2 separate regions of the Homo sapiens genome follow, and region 1 is linked to region 2. The links come from fine-mapping of genetic effects on gene expression. Tissue or cell type: prefrontal cortex. Region 2 holds a variant in brackets; the other region holds the start of a gene. All regions are shown on one strand. Distances are from middle to middle.

What was found. PIP is the estimated chance that this variant, and not a neighbour inherited with it, causes the effect.
Region 1: it holds the start of SCYL3, and the variant in region 2 is fine-mapped to the expression of SCYL3 in prefrontal cortex (GTEx, PIP above 0.99). The same link has a PIP of 0.9 or more in substantia nigra and whole blood.

The regions. Positions count from the first base shown.
Region 1 is chr1:169,889,748-169,897,855 of GRCh38, forward strand. It overlaps SCYL3 (SCY1 like pseudokinase 3), which reads right to left and starts at 4,149. Exons shown (of 13, transcript NM_020423.7): 1 at 4,041-4,149. RefSeq lists enhancers at 3,317-3,904, 3,905-4,492, 4,167-4,576 and silencers at 3,587-3,646, 3,887-3,966.
Region 2 is chr1:169,792,058-169,800,165 of GRCh38, forward strand. METTL18 (methyltransferase 18, RPL3 N3(tau)-histidine) reads right to left here and starts at 2,850. Exons shown (of 2, transcript NM_033418.4): 1 at 2,758-2,850; 2 at 472-1,840. The coding sequence starts at 1,638. The coding sequence ends at 520. FIRRM (FIGNL1 interacting regulator of recombination and mitosis) reads left to right here and starts at 2,983. Exons shown (of 25, transcript NM_001320047.2): 1 at 2,983-3,058; 2 at 3,772-3,926; 3 at 6,800-6,901. RefSeq lists an enhancer at 2,583-2,902. The variant G/A (reference allele first, on the strand shown) is at 4,142.

The sequences.
Region 1 (8,108 bases), 98 kb after region 2:
ATTATCTTGATGATGATGATGGTAACGGGTGATTATGTCAAAACATAAAACTGTACACTTTTTTCATTTATTCTGTATCAATTACGCCTCAAAGTTGTTTTGAAAAGAAATATATGTATACATACACACAGACTTGAAAAATATATGTTGAAGTATTAACAGAGGTTTCCAGTGGAAGGTCAGATTATAGGTAATTTTATACACACACACTTGCCTGCACCTTCCAAATCTTCTACAATATGAACAGCTTTCTTGACAACAGGGATACAAACTCACAGGGTGACAACAGGTAATGTGCAGTGCCCCAGCAGTACTGGCAGCCTGGCAGAGGGACCTACTGTGCGTGCATGGGACCTACTGTGAGAGGCTTGCATTCTGAAGACAGTGGCTATCACAGAGTTCCAACCAGGACTGCAGTTTCAGAACTGTCAGATCATGCCACTTATCGTGAGGAACCAAGAGCCTGAATAGTTTTGTGGAAATCTCCATATTTTTCAATGTTGAATCAAATGTTTTCTAAACCTATATAGGCCAAACAACGTATGTCTGAAAAATCTGTGGCAGTCAGTTTTCAGTGGTGGCTTTACCATAATATAAAAATTAGAAAATAGAGTTCTTACTAACTCTGGCAATGTAGAAAGCAAACTGCTACAAATACGGCCAATAATTCTATGTAGGCCTTTAAAAATTTGTTTAAAATCTGTATTCTTTGGACAAATATAAACTCAATAATCATTACACATTGACCCTCTACTTGGAATTTTTCCCCACTTCGGTGAAATTCCATACAACACCTTCTACACTGGGTATGTAATGCTGCTCAAAACACATGCCTAGAACAAAATTTAAAGTGCCTACCGATCCACAACCATCGTTATATAAGAAACACATGTATAAAGGCTAAAGCTATCTAAAATTGAAGATTTTCAAAATCTAAAAATGTTGCTGAGAATAAGAACTAAATCTGCTTTGTAACAAATTCACTGAATTCCTACCTACCTGGCAATGTATCTTTCTTAAAAATGACAGAGAAGCAAAAAACAGTACTAAAAGAAATGCCAAGTATGGCAACTATGGTAACATTCACCTTTCTACTGGGACTACAAATAAAAAGTTTATGTGGGACCATGGGTAAAAGCAACAATGCTAATCCCTCTGTTCTGGAGATAGAGTGCTGGCCAGATTGTCACAACCTCCTGCTGAGTAGGGAGGATTATGCTTAGCACTTGATCTTGCCACCTCTTCTTGGGCACAGTTAATGTTGGCAGGTACCTATCCTGGGCCAAAGGGCGGTTAATTCACAAATTAGCCATCAATTTCATGGCCTGAGTGAAGAGATAAACTGGCCAGATCATTGTCTCCCCCAGGAATTTGAACTAAGAACAATTTTTGCCTATTAGAAGCATAGCCGAAGGTAGAAGGATGCTATGAGGTGGAGGTGGAGCTACGGCAAACCAAAGCCACATGAAGTCAGAAACTTTCCAGAGGAAGTCAGTTGGTAGTAAAATTTTAAAAAGCAAACACTGGGACCGTAGCTTAGTCATACTTAGGGGGCACATTACTACTATCCATCTCAAGACTACCGGAAGCCCAGCCTCAAATCTAATTCCACCCAGATACCCTAACATCCCATTGACACCCTTACAACCAGCCCCCTTTTCCTCAGGTAACTTGAATGGGTCTATGTTCTTTGAAACTAATTGCCATTTCATAGGCAGAAAGCTCTACTTGGTCTCCAACTCCTGCCTGAAAAGCCAGTCAGACTGGAAGAGTGAGTTACAGAAGTGTTACTTTGAAAGTATCTGAAGCTAGTCTGACCGTCTCTCTCTCACCCACAAAACACAGCTTTCCAAAATCAACACACAATTAAGAGAAAAGCAGAGAATAAGGGACTGTATATTAATGAATATCTTCTTCGCAGGAAATCATGCTGTTTATTTAAGTGTTAATATTAATCCTCATGGGAGATAAGACTGCCACCAGGATTCAGGGTCAGTGCTCTGGCTGATGAATGGCAGTCACCAGAGGCAAGAGAAAGGAACATTTAATTTACTTAGCTATTTCTAAATAGCAAAATACTTCCTTGTGGGAACATTGGCCTTGCAATAGCTATTAACCTTAGATTTCATATGAATTCCACTATAATTAACAAAGTTATAAAAGCATTAGGAAGTAGTTAAAATTCATTTTTCTTACTGTATTTTAGGTCTAAGACTAAAAAAATCACTTAAAAATTAAAAAGGGATGACTCAATTTCTTGAGAGAACTGGAAAGGATGCCATTTTCTTGTTTTGAAAGCATGTTAACTTTGACAGAAGTCCACTGATACCATCAGTGTAATACTGACAGTGGTAAGATTATATTGTATGTTCCCAGTGCAAACTTTATTGGGGGAAAATTAAAAAGGTGTGCTGATTATTGCAATTTGAGAATGTTTTGAAGCAGTAATTCTTCACACTAATATATCTAAAGAAGCACAAATACTGTTATATGAAGAAGTTTTTTTGTTTGTTTTTTGTTTTAAATAGAGATATGGTCTTGTTCTGTTGCTGCTGGCCTAGAGTGCATTGGCGCTATCCTATCTCACTGTAACCTGGAATTCCTGGGCTCAAGCTACCTGCCCTCCCCAGCCTCCCTAGTTGCTGAGATTACAGGCATGTGCCACCATGCCCGCCAGTGCTTTAAAAATGATAATTCAGCTAAAATTGATTTATTGAAATGTAAGAAAAACACTTGGCCTTCCAAAATGCTTTCCTGTTGTTTTGAGGACGGGGAAAACACAAAATCTTGCTCATTAGCTTTGAAATTAAAAAGTCACAAGAAGGTAGAAAAGGATATCCTAGTATCCCGTAATAGGTATTTCGTAGCACTTAGCATCTCCACTCTATAATAAAATGCTGAGTTGACAGTCTCTGACTTGAATATGCATCAGTCTTCCCTTTAATAATCTCCCTCCACTCTTTTGCCTACTTGGGCAGCACATAAAATTTCTGGACCGCTTGTAGATTAAGAAAACCCTTGTCTAGGTCAAAGGGCAACTCATACACTCAACTAAGAAACCCGTGTGCTCTATGGAAATGTTTCTACCAAATATTTTCTTTTCCCAGCAATTACTCGAGACTACCTTGGTCCTAGCTCCCTTAGCTTGAAAGTTCCAAAGATAATGGCTTGCACTCTGAGTATTAAGGATGCACTGTACTGGCTGATATTCTGGTATCCAGCGGTAACGTTACTCCGGCCCTTGCTTTCGTGTTTCAGGTATATATTCCCTCTGCGGAACTCAGTCCAGCATTGCTAGCTGACAAGCAATACACAATTAAGTCTTTATGGACCAAAATAATTGTGATTTCAGCTCAAGATACATTTTATAAGAACATGGGTCCCTAAAAACAGCAGTTAACAGTGACCCCCAAAATTCGAGACCCGACTCCGAGAATTTCACATGGATTCCTGAATATGCTCTTCCGAGAAATGTTTCATCTTTATTCTAAACAGAAAGCACTATGCCAAGACAGGAGCCAGCTGGGCCTTGGGGGACGGGCACTGGTCTTGGATCAAGAATGAGGCCGCCTTCCCGAGGGCGGGCGCGCCCCCAGGATCCCCCCGGGCTCGGGCACTGCCGCCCCGGGACAGTGACCCGCCCAGCCGAGCACCCTCGCCCTGCTTGCCGCGACCCCGCGGGGTCACTGAAGGGCCGAGGCGCCGCTCTCGCTTCGCTGGCCCCTCACCTTCCACACCTCCCTGCGAGGACCGACTCCGCGGCCGCCTTGGAGAGCTCTGGCCGCGGGCGCCTCACCCGTCGGGGGCCGCCCGCGAAGCGCAGATTACAGGGCGCCCCACAATCAGCAAGGGGAGGCTGCTCCGAAGCTGAGAGCACAGCTCAACCGGCCGCCGGCGCCGCGCCGAGCTCGCTCCCGCGCGGGCCCCAGAGCGCAGACCCGCGAGCGGGGCGCGCGCCCGCCGCCTCCTCCCCGCCCGGCCCCTTCCCCCACGGCGCAGTCCTGCAAGGACTGGGGGCGCAGCGCAGGGCTCCCTGTTACCTGCAGGAAGGCGGCGGGGGAGGAGGCCGAGGGTCTTGGCTCTGGTACCCTGTTGGCCCCCCTGTTGACACCAACCACCCCTGCCTGCCTGTAAGGCTGTGGCCACTACACCCACAATCTTCTGGGGGCCGGGTTTCTCCTACACCATAGAGACGGGTCCGGAAACGGGACAGAAGGCCCACCTTCCTCCCTCCGACGCCACCAATGAGGCCAACTAACCAGGAACCGAGGTAGAGAGGCCGCACAGCTGAGTCTCAGGCCGGTGCCATCTTAAGTGTGGGCGCCGCGACGATACCGAGTTTCACTCACTGCCCCAGTGGTCTAGTTAGTCCACGAAGATGCCCCCTTTCTAGATGTGTTGGTCGAATGCTTAAGTTTGTCTTGACTTGAATTTTTAGGCTTTTAACAGCACAGTTTTAATTTCATTTCCGCCCAAATCCAAAATGGCTGCTGGCCACTTGTAGCAAACAGTAGAGGTGCAGGGCGGAGAAAAGGAGTACGGGAATTAGCGAGGACTTTCAGGAGAGTGACGTCACTCAACCTGTAGCTTTGATTGGCTGGGCTGCGAGGGTGGAGTCGTGCAGAGCCGCTGCTGGCGGAGGTCGTGGTGATCTCGCTTGATCTTTGAGAGGGAAGGTCCTGAATCACATTTCATTTAGCAAAAAGTAATATTTGAAAATTTTAATATTAATGCAGTAGTTTTGCCCCCCTCCATGCTTTCTGCAGTGTCAGTTACCTGTGGTCAAACCTTGGTTCAGAAATGTTAAATGGAAAACTCCAGAAATAAACAATTCTTAAGTTTCAAACCGCCTGTATTCTGAGTAGCCCGATTAAATCTCGGGCCATCCACTCTGTCCCACCCTTGACGCGAATCATCTGTCGCAGGTAGCCGCGCTGTGTACAGTATCCACTCATTACCCACTCAGTAGCTGCTTTGGTTAACAGATGCACCCGTAGTATAGCAGAGATAATGAGAGATACCACCTGCTTATGTTCAGGTAACCCTTATTTTACTTAATAATGGCCGCAAAGCACAGGAATTGTGCTGACAATTTGGATATGCCGAGGAGAAGCTGTAAAGTGCTTCCTTTAAATGAAAAGGTGAAAGCTCTGGACTTAATAAGGAAAGAAAAAGAGTCATATGCTGAGGTTGCCAAAATCTATGATAAGAACAAATTATCCATGAAATTGTGAAGAAGGAAAAAGATTCGTGCTAGTTAACTAAGCACCTATCATGCACTGTGGCTGTAACTTTTGTAGTTTGAGGTGCAACAGCAAAAGACGGAAAAGGCATTACATTTGTGGGTGGGAGACATGAACAGAAAACGTATTTCAGCTGACCGCAGTAAGTTTTGCCAGAAAGTGTTGAGCCTATAGGAAGACTTAAGAAAGGGATCCCCTGAAATTAGGCACACCAAGCTATTTACTGCAAGTAAGGGATGGCTACACAGATTCAGGAATAGGTTTGGACTGAAAAACATAAAAATAACTGGAGAGGCCACATCTGCTGATGAAGAAGCTGCCACATGTCTGGCAGAGTTGAAGACATTGGTTAAGGAGAAAGGCTTCCAGGAGATTGATGGATAAGTTAGGAAAATCATTCAGGTAGCAATGAAACTGCCTTTGCAAAATTATGACTAAGGCAGTTAAAGAGATCCAATTTAACCAACTCCATCTTGTCCTTAACCTCCATGCTATCCTTGTTCATTCCTGGGCATAGGCTGAACTAACTTTGGAAGGAAATTAGTTTATAATTTACAGTTTAAAACAAAAACAATAAAAGCCCTTTCCCAAAACCAACCTCCTTCTTGCCTGGGGTCTAGACTACCAACATTAGCCACAAGATTAGAAATTATGGTTTGGGAGTCATGCAGCTGGAGGCCACAAGATTCTGACCCTCCCTAAACTGCTCCTGAGATCAGTGCTTCAGATGTTTTGCAGACCCTGCACTTGATGGATCAGCTGGCAACACCCAGATGATAAACTGGCCCATCTGATCTTGTGACCCCCACCCAGAACTGACTCAGTTCAAGAAGACAGTGATGCCCCATAGTTTCATCTCCGACCCAACCAATCAGCACTCCCTGACTTACTGCCCCTCCCCACCCACCAAATTGTCTTTAAAAACTCGACTGCTGGAGGAGACTGATTTGAGTAATAATAAAACTCTGGCCCCCCACACAGCCAGCTCTGCATGAATTCTTTGTCTATTGCAATTCCCCGTCTTGATAAATTGGCTCTATCTAGGCAGACGGCAAGGTGAACCTACTGGGCGGTTATAGCAAGACAAGTTGGTGAAAAAGGATTTGTCAATATGCTTGATGAAGAGGTGGGAGAACATATCAAAGGCCTCACTATCCATTCTGAGGACAGGTTTAACCTTCTCAAACTAGAAGCAGGGCTTAGTCACCCTGGACAGTCTCTAGTTCTGTGCCTCCTCCCACTTCCTCTATGTGGTCAGTCCAGACATCTGCCTTGTATGACCGCCTCTGGTGACCACCTCCCTATCGAACCATCAGGTACAAGCTGCTTGCTTCATCCCCTTGACCCCTATACCCCACATATACTTTGCAGATATGCCTCAGTGACCACCTCTTAGTCACAGTGGGACTAAGATGTTGGACCCAGGACCACAGTGAAGGCTTTGGCCCGCAAGTCCCTCTCTCTGTCTCGTCCCCCTCCCACTGGTTGAGCATGTGTGTCCCCCTTCTCATTGGCCCTGTGAGGCATGCTGTCCTCTTATTATGGATCTGTAAGTAATGAAACTGCTTCTATTATTTCACATGTTTTGTTCACCTCCTCTGTGTCTCACCTGACCTATACACCCACACCTGACTTGTTTCCTGGTTAGGGCTCTCCTAGAGAGTGGCTGTCTTGGTTGGAATAAACCAGACACGGGGCAGACAAGAGCCACAAATGTGCCTGCTAATATAAACAAGCTTCCTGTGAGAGGGACCTCCTGTCATGGGTCAGACACCTAGGATTTAGGCCGTCTGCCAGGATAAAGAAGTATTCCATGGAAGGCACACTGTAAATATCCAAGCCCCATCACGGAAGAGCTAACGTTTATAACCACTCCCAGAGAGAGACCTCGAGACCGAATTAGAAAAGAAATACAACACATAGACCCTAGGTTTACTAGCTCCAACATCCATTCCCACTCCTCACCCCCTTCTCCCTTGTTCACCTTCGATAAAGAAGTTAAGAAATCAAAAAGATCACTTTCTGAGCCTACTTTCCCGCTAGGGTGGTCACAAGTTCTGGCCGGTGAGACATAGCAGAAGTTGGGAGGAAGATAGACAGTGGATTAGGAAAGGTTTTTCCTCCCTATTAAAGGAAATGGCTGTGGGTGTAACAGCAGCAGCCACCCAAGCACCAGGAGACAGCGGGAGAACATGCTGAGGATGTCGATTTGAAAGACAGAAGGATTCTCTTGCCTTTCACACTATCCCTCGAGAGTTCATAACTATGTTTTTCCTCCTTTTACAGGAGGAGTAGAGATGAGTCCCTTCAACCAGTACGTGAAATCTTCTGCAGTCAACACAGCTACTTGCTGGCCCACCCTCTTCCCAGTGTCCTCACCTCTGAGTCTTTGCTGGCCTTCCCACCCTGTTCCTTGCTCCCTAATCTTATGTCCAGATGTGCTGAGCTCCAGGGTATCCTCTATAATCATTCATCAGCCTAGAGGACTCTGTATTTCCTTTCATTTCCCCAAGGTAAACCCACTCCTCCAAATATCAATGAGAAGGGAATATTTTGCAGTGAATGGAGTAGGAGAGAGATGGGAGGGAGTTTGACACTCAGTCCTTCCCCTCTTCACTCTTCATCTACTCACCTATTTGCTCTTGATGTCACTCAGGTCTCTGAACAAATGTCACCTGTTCAGACTCTTAAAGATTTGGGGCATTGAAATCACAGGCTAACTTGTATATTTTTGTCCAACAAAGATGCAAATCTTTCTGTCCAGTGGAAAAGTTAACCCCAAAGTTTATTCTTATTGCACTAGAGAGCATTTCTCATTTTAAAATCTAATCTAGTAATCTTACTGTATTTCTTTATAAAATTGCT
Region 2 (8,108 bases):
TTCCCTTTGTTTCCTCATCTCCATGTGAATTTAGTTAAATTCTCAGCATTCTGATCCTTACTATACAAGGTAAATGAATATAAAAACAAAACGAAACAAAAACCTCTTCCTATTTACATAAGGCCCCAACCTAATATTTAGTGATATATATTAATGTGAACAAGGAACTAACGAAGACTGGGAAGAAATTCACAGACTTGAGAGAAGAAATGGCAGGATTTCCTGGGAACAATTTCATGTAACGTCAAAGGTGGTAAAAGGTCAAATAGAATGAAGATGGAGAATACCGGATTTTCTTACAAAATGATTTCCCAGGAGATCTCATCAAATGCACGAGGATACCTTCTCAGTTTCACCTAGTGAGTAAAAGACTGGTAACATAGCTCACTTACAATTTGGATAAACAAAACTAAACAAACAACATCAAAATTTCAGAAAAAATAATAGCAAAACAGAAATCAAACACTCAAATTTTTGGTCCTTCTGTTTATTTCATTTTGGATACTCAGTGAATGTTAATTAACCAGGAAACTTAAAAGTTATTTCAATTATGAACCTCTTCAATCCTTCATCAATTATTTTGAGTATTCTGGTCTTAAAAACATCTCTTTCTTCTACAAACTTCTGAAAGAGATGAACACCTCCACCTACACCAAAATAATGTGCTTTGCTGGCCAAAAGTACACGTCCATTTTTACTTAACAGTCTAAGGAAAGTCTGGTGCAAATTACTATAATAATCTGGGTTGTAAATGGTTTCTGAGGTGAGAATGAGATCATATTTTACAAAAAGTTTTTCACTACTTAGTACAAGCTTACAAAACTCAGACCACTCACCAGAAAAAAATCGGCATTTATATAGTTGTGTTACTTTTGGTTTCCTGCATCTTTTCACATCTGGCTCATTTACATCATTTTCTTCATCTTCCAAAGTGGAGTTAGCTACTACATTAGGTAAGGTTACTTCATCAATCACCATACTGTTATAATCTTGAAAGTGAATTTCTTTGGACCCTCCCTTGAATGCAGTTATACCTAGTAAACCTGATCCACAACCAAGATCCAAGACTTTTTTCCCAGCAAATTTCACTTTGGCCTTTGTGAAATAAGCCAGGAGGTCAAAGGTACATTCCCAGATTTTTAAGCCTCCCTCATAAACACCTGTAATCAGATCAGAGTGAGAAGAAAAGCTTTTTGAAACTATGTTTTCTCCAGGGAAGTTCTCTTTCAACAAGATGGTTTTCACTACTGATAACTTAACATGCTGGAAACCTGGTAATGTTTCTATGACTTTATTTTCTAACATCTTCTTTAAATCTTTAGGCATAGCATGCTCTTTGGCAGCTCTCAAGGAGGGCTGTTTTCCATGTGGCTCCAAGTTCCTTGAACTGCTGGCTGCACTGAGTGGACTGTCTGTGTCTTGAGAGGGAGCTGCATTTTCCATTGACTTATGTTCCCACAAGTGATCCTGAGGCAAGTCAAATTGTTCTGCAGAACATTTTCTGTCCCTCTCTTCTCCTTTTTGACTTTCTGAGACTGACAGCTCTTTTGAGGAATCCAGGGTCAAAGCTCCATCTCTAATGGGTGTTAATTCATTTTCCAGATGGTCTTCTATAGTGAAATTAAACTGAAAGGTCATCCTCTTATTAAATGCACACAATCTTTAAATTCAGATTCTTCAACTTCTGGATAGAATTTGATGATACACACAAATCTGCCTCAATTATTCAATTAGTTTTGTTGGGCCCAATTTCTCTTTAGCAGCTTATACATGGTAACAAATATTTAGAGATATTTCCAAATGACTTTTTAGACGTCTTTGGTCCTCTTTCCAAGCAGCTCTGGAAAGAAAAAAAAAAAAAAAAGAAAGAAAATGATGATTAAAGCAAAATGGCACATTTCACTAAAGTGTAATATTAAACAGCCACCCCCACCCCTCCCTGTCCCACCATACAGCTGCTTTTTCTTAAAAAGTTGTGGGGAAGAGAGAGAGATAAGAGATTTGGACACTCATACACACCTTAAGGGTTCCAAAGTGGGAGAAGAAAATCAACTATAAAAACAAACAGAAGAACAACAGCAACCACCACCACTACCACCTGGACAAACATAAAGTCCAAGATATTCAGACAGGACAGCCTAGCTACTTGCTGTCTTTCAGCTGTCTTGATTTGTGTCCAACCATATTCACCCCCTAAGCTTCCAGAATAACTTCACTTCTGTCTTTTACAGAAGAGGTGCAGTATTTTATTTTGGTAAGTCAGCGTCCCTTTAAAAACATGCATAGGTATGGCCTGGTGTGTGTAAATTCATCCAAGACTTCACTCCAAACATTTAGTCGAGAACAGCAGCCCTAAGTGTATAGAAGTGGGGGTAATTTGGCAATAATTAGTAAAGACTAATTCGGTGGCAGAGCAAACGCAAACTAGGGCACTGCAGTAGTTTGGAGAGACCTGTAGAAATAAGAAGCAACTTTATTGAGAATCTTCTATCTACTGCGCTAGACACTATACCATCTGCCTCAATTTTCACAGTTCTGGCAAGTGGGATCTTTGTTCCCTTTATACAAGATTTACAATTTGGGGGAGAGGCGGGTCACCCAGTCCCGCGGCTAGGAACGCGCCTCTTTCCTCTCCCATCACGCTGCAAGGCTTGGAGTCACTTCCGGCTGCAGGTCCCGGAACAAATCCGACCCCAGAAGTGGGGACTTCTGGCCCTCACCTCCCCATTTGAATGTAATGTTTACAGTGATCCAGACCTGGGGATGCTTGCTTCCCGACGTGTCCTGGGATCGCGCTTCTGAAAAAGCTCACCTCACAACGCCTCCTCCGGACCTAAATCGCGCACCAGTGAGTCGAGTCCTCCAGGGGCTAGAGAAGCCCGACTTTCTTTCCGGCCTTGAGGGACCCGGGCTCACCAAGAAACCAGCCGCCCTCCTCTCTATGGTTTTGGAGCCGGCGGAGAGCGCGCAAGGGTTGGCGGGACTGCGAGTTTCCGGTCTGGGCTTTGGCGGGTCTGGTTTGAAGCTCTCCTGTTTGACGAAAGTATGTCTCAGGAAGGTGCGGTCCCAGCTAGCGCGGTTCCCCTGGAAGAATTAAGTAGCTGGCCAGAGGAGCTATGCCGCCGGGAACTGCCGTCCGTCCTGCCCCGACTCCTCATATCCTTCCTTGGTTGTCACTTCTACCTAGAGAAGGGTGTGGGCGGGTCGCGAACCTTTCTCTTCTGTCCCTTCAGACCCACCGCCAGGCTGGGTTATATTACCGCGGCCTGAACCCCCTCTTTTCTTTGTCAGTGAGTGGGATGAAAAGTGAGGGACTGGAGGGGAAGCGACAACCGTGGTAGATTTAAGTAAGGCTTTGGCCCTGGAAAGCCTCGCGGACGTGTTCTGACCCAAGGTTTTAGCAGTGGATGTGGCGTTTTCTTCCATTCCTTCTTTCAGTTTTTCTGTACTCGTTGCTTGCAATTAAGTGTAAATACTTTTGCTAGTGGATAATGGGGGAGGCAAGGACTGAGACCTGCGGTATGACGATAGCTCTGGCTCTTAATAGTTTGAGGTAAAGCGAGATACTCTGAGCTTTTGTCTCCCGTAAAAAGGGTGGTGAATATGAATAAGGGCTTTCTTAGCGTTATAAGAATTAAAGGGCATAGTTCTGTGGTGTGAAATCTTTAAAAGATGTTCAGTAAATAAAAATGATTTTCCTCCTTCCCCTCTCAGACCTCTTTTTCTTCTTTCTTTCTTTTTTTTTGACAAGTTCTCACTCCTCTCACCCAGGCTGGAGTCTTTCTGAAAGAGTTCTTCCGCTTGTTGTTGGCTTTCAACTGTTGGATTTGAGGCGCTTAGCGCCTTCTTCGTCCGGGTGCAGCACATTCTTGATTGGTCTCATGCCTTTGTGGTTGTAAATGTGCCTGGAATCCTAGCCTTTCATGGTAAACCATATGTATATGTATCTTTTTCACAACATTTGAGCCCAGCTTTATACAATTACACTCAAAAGAAAAAAAGTAACCTTCACTTGAGAGAATCTCAATACTGCACAAATATTGTGCAGCTAAAGCCCTATGTAATCACATAGAAGTCATTCACCTAGGCATTAGCAAAATCTCAGAAGGTGCCAAAGCCCCCTTTTTTAGTTTTTGTGTAG[G/A]TACAGAACTGCCGTCTTCAAGGAGTTTCAACTTGAAAACAAATAGCCACCCTCAAAACATTCAAAAACACTTAAACTGCGTGCATAATGTGTGTGAGACATGGTGTTAGGCTTTGGGAGAACAGAGACACGGAACGTGATTCCTCTTCTTCCCCACAAGCTTATAGAGAGACTTCATTAAGTTGAAAGTCAACATTCCCACCTAGCTTTGCACTTCAAACGACATATTCAAAAAAGCCCAAACTTCCTCTAGTTTTCTTCATCTGAGTAAATGGTTTCACAAACTGAAACCTTGAATCCTCTCTGTCTCACACACCCGATCAGTAAGTTCTATTGTTTCTGATTCCAAACTATGTCTTGAATCAATCCGTTTATCTCCATCCTCATTGCTACCACTCTGATTCCAAACCCTTATCACCTCTCACTTGGAGTATTAATAGTTTCCTTGTTTCTACTCATAATTCATTATTCCAAAAAAGTTAAGAGGGGAAAAACATAGATCTCGTCATTTCCCTTTTTAAACCACTTTACCTTCAAGGTTCCAGGTGATCTAAGCCTTGCCCTTCTCTCATACCTAGTTAATTAACTACACTCTGTTCATGAATACATTAGGCTCACCTACCTCAAGATCTTTTTGCTCAGCCTGATTTGTTCTCTCAGCCTTTTGCATATTTCATGTTTATGTCTTGGCCCAAATGTCACTTCCTTAGAGGGGCTTTTTCAGAGCCTTCAATCTTAGGCAGTTCCCCCAAACGCAGTCTTACACTTGTATCACATTGGCCTGTTCAGTTTTCTAAAAAGCACATTACCATTAAAAGAAATGCTCTTGTTTGCTTTGTATATTTTCCACTTCTACACATTATGTTGCAAAGTTCATAAAGGCAGGATGTTGATTTTCTTCACAGCGTTACCCTCAGCACCTAGAACAGTGCCTGACACATAGTAAGCATTCATTAAAGGGCTAAAAATATTTCATGTTTTAAAAATACTTGGGAGTCTAATTAGACAATACTTTTTTTCAGCTTAATGGTAGTATTTTAGCTTCACTATTTTAACAAATGAAAAATTTGCAATAAATCTACAATGCCATTACCCCCCAAAATCTTTTTCATGTTTTGCATTTTACGTATTATTTTCCAGGCCTTACCTGCATGTCTGCATAATCATAACTGACTAATTTTGGAACAGCTGGTAATTATTTGAGCTTTACTGAAATTTTTTCATGAGGCCAATTCTACCCTACTGAACTCAAATTTGAGTTAATGATGACCTCATTTTGATTGCTGCTGTAAAAAATAAGATTTCGGAAGAGGAATGAATTCTTGTATTACTGTGGTAGGACTATGGGTTTTTTTTTGTTTGTTTGTTTGTTTTGAGACGGAGTCTCACCCTGTCACCCAGGCTGGAGTGCAGTGGTGCGATCTCAGCTCACAGCAGCCAGGTTCAAGTGATTCTCCTTCCTCAGCCTCCCGAGTAGCTGAGATTACAGGCACGTGCCACCATGCCCGGCTAATTTTTTGTATCTTTAGTAGAGATGGTTTCACCATGTTGGCCAGGCTGGTCTCGAACTCCTGACCTCGTGATCCGCCTGCCTCAGCCTCCCAAAGTGCTGGGACTACAGGCGTGAGCCACCGTGCCCGGCCGGGTTATTCATTTTTCTTATTAACATTCTTTGATGATTCTTATGGTGTTGTTACAGTAAAACATTTCTAACAATTATTCTAACAATTATTCTTGATGGTGTATATGAAGAATTTATTGTCGTGTATTTGTAAGCTGCTATGTGCAGAAGAATTTCAGTCAAATAAAGTTGGTAAGATAGGTATGTAAGTAATATGAAAAAAGATAGAAGGTGATGAGTGACTTAGGTATAAATTAAGTACAATAGAAATGTTGAGGAAAGAAAAATTTCTTGTAATAGAAATCGGAAGTACAAACTGGGCATGGTGGTGTGCATCTCTAATCCCAGCTCCTTGAGAGGCTGGTATGGGAGGATCACTTTAGCCCAGGAGCTTGAGGCTGCAGTGAGGTGTGATCATGTCACCGCACTCCATCCTGGGTGACAGCAAGACCGTCTCTCTTTTTTTTTTTTTTTGAGACGGAGTCTCGCCTATGCTGGAGTGCAATGGCGCGATCTTGGCTCACTGCAACCTCTGCCTCCCAGTTTCAAGTGATTCTCCTGCCTCAGCCTCCTGAGCAGCTGGGATTACAGGTGTGCGCCACCATGCCCAGCTAATTATTTTGTATTTTAAGTAGAGACGGGTTCTCACCATACTGGCCAGGCTGGTCTTCAACTCCTGACCTCTTGTTCGCCCATCTAGGTCTCCCAAAGTGCTGGGATTACAGGTGTGAGCCACCCCACTTGGCCCCGAGCGAGACCCTCTCTCTAAAAAAAAATAAATAAATAAATCATAAACCTGTGGATTATTGTAGCATTGTTTCTCATCTGTCAAAAATATTTCATGACTATGCATAGTTTGAAAAGGCAAGTTTGTCCCTGGGCAATTTTCAAAATATTTCTTTAATGTGTTTTCACAATACTGTTTACCTAATAAATCTTAAGTTTTTAAAAGCAAAATTAAGCCAGTAATTTGAGTCCAATTCCAATCTCTTATGAGTCATTGCTTAAATTTCAAAAGGGTTTTATTTTTTTTTTAGGTTTGTTCTGAGTAATGAATACCCTATTACTATGATACTAGTATCTTCCTTAATTATCCTACTCATTGTCTCAACATTCTGACAGTTGGATTGAGCATATTCGTAAGTAAAATTGTTTTAACTGTATGATGTACTTTGATGTTAAGGTCCGAGTCCCCACATACCTCGGTAGATGTGTTCTTACAGTTTTGTATTCCCTTGAAATGTAACTGTTCTCTATGTTACAGCCTTTATAACCTTCAGTTACTTGAAATGAACAAATTCATTCAAATTCCAGCACTTAAAAGTTTTAAATTACATTTTGGATAAATACCAAAGTGTTTTGTTGATGATGTATGTATAAACAAATTGTAAATATTAAACGTTAGTTGTTACGATTAGACCTATATAAAACATGATATGCAGTCTACTGAATAGCTATCAGCCTCTAACATGTTTAGTGTCATTTAGAAAATGCTTTCTAAATTGCCAAAAGCTGATTGTCTAGGTGATAACAAATTTACCATTTGGAGGAAGTTGACTTTCTCATTTTCATGTCTTCATCAGTCTTACTTGATGAGATTCATTCTTCTAGTCAGAAGAGAGTTTAGACTGCTCAGTTTACTCATATTTTGAGTTAGCTTTTCTATTTAGAGTTCACTTGGTTGTGGAATATTCATTTATAATTTGAATCTACGTTGTGTAATGGGACCTAATTTTTTTTTCCTTTGTTTTTGTTGGAGTCTCGTTTTGTCACCCAGGTTGGAGTGCAGTGGCGTGATCTTTGCTCACTGCAACCTCCACCTTCCAGGTTCAGGTGATTCTCCTGCCTCAGTCTCCCAAGTAGCTGGGATTACAGGCATGCTTCACCACGCCTGGCTAATTTTTGTATTTTTAGTAGAGATGGGGTTTCACCATGTTGGCCAGGCTGGTCTCAAAACTCCTGAGCTCAAGTGATCCTCCTGCCTTGGCCTCCATAAGTGCTGGGATTACAGGCGTGAGCCGCTGAGCCTGGCCCCAGAGTTTGTTTTGTTTTGTTTTCAAGACAAGATCTCACTCTATTGCCCAGGCTGGAGAGCAGTAGTGCGATCATAGCTCACTGCAGCCTGAACTCCTGGGTTCAAGCTATTCTCCTGCCTCCATCTTCTAAAGTGCTGTGATTACAGGTCTGAGCCATGATGCTTGGCCTGTGTTTTTGTTTGTTTGTTTTGGGGGACAGGGTCTTGCTTTGTCACCAAAACTGGAGTGTAGTGGTGCGAACATAGCTAGCTCACTGCAGCCTCCATCTCCCACGCTCAAGCAATCCTCTCACCTCAGCCTTCCAAGTAGC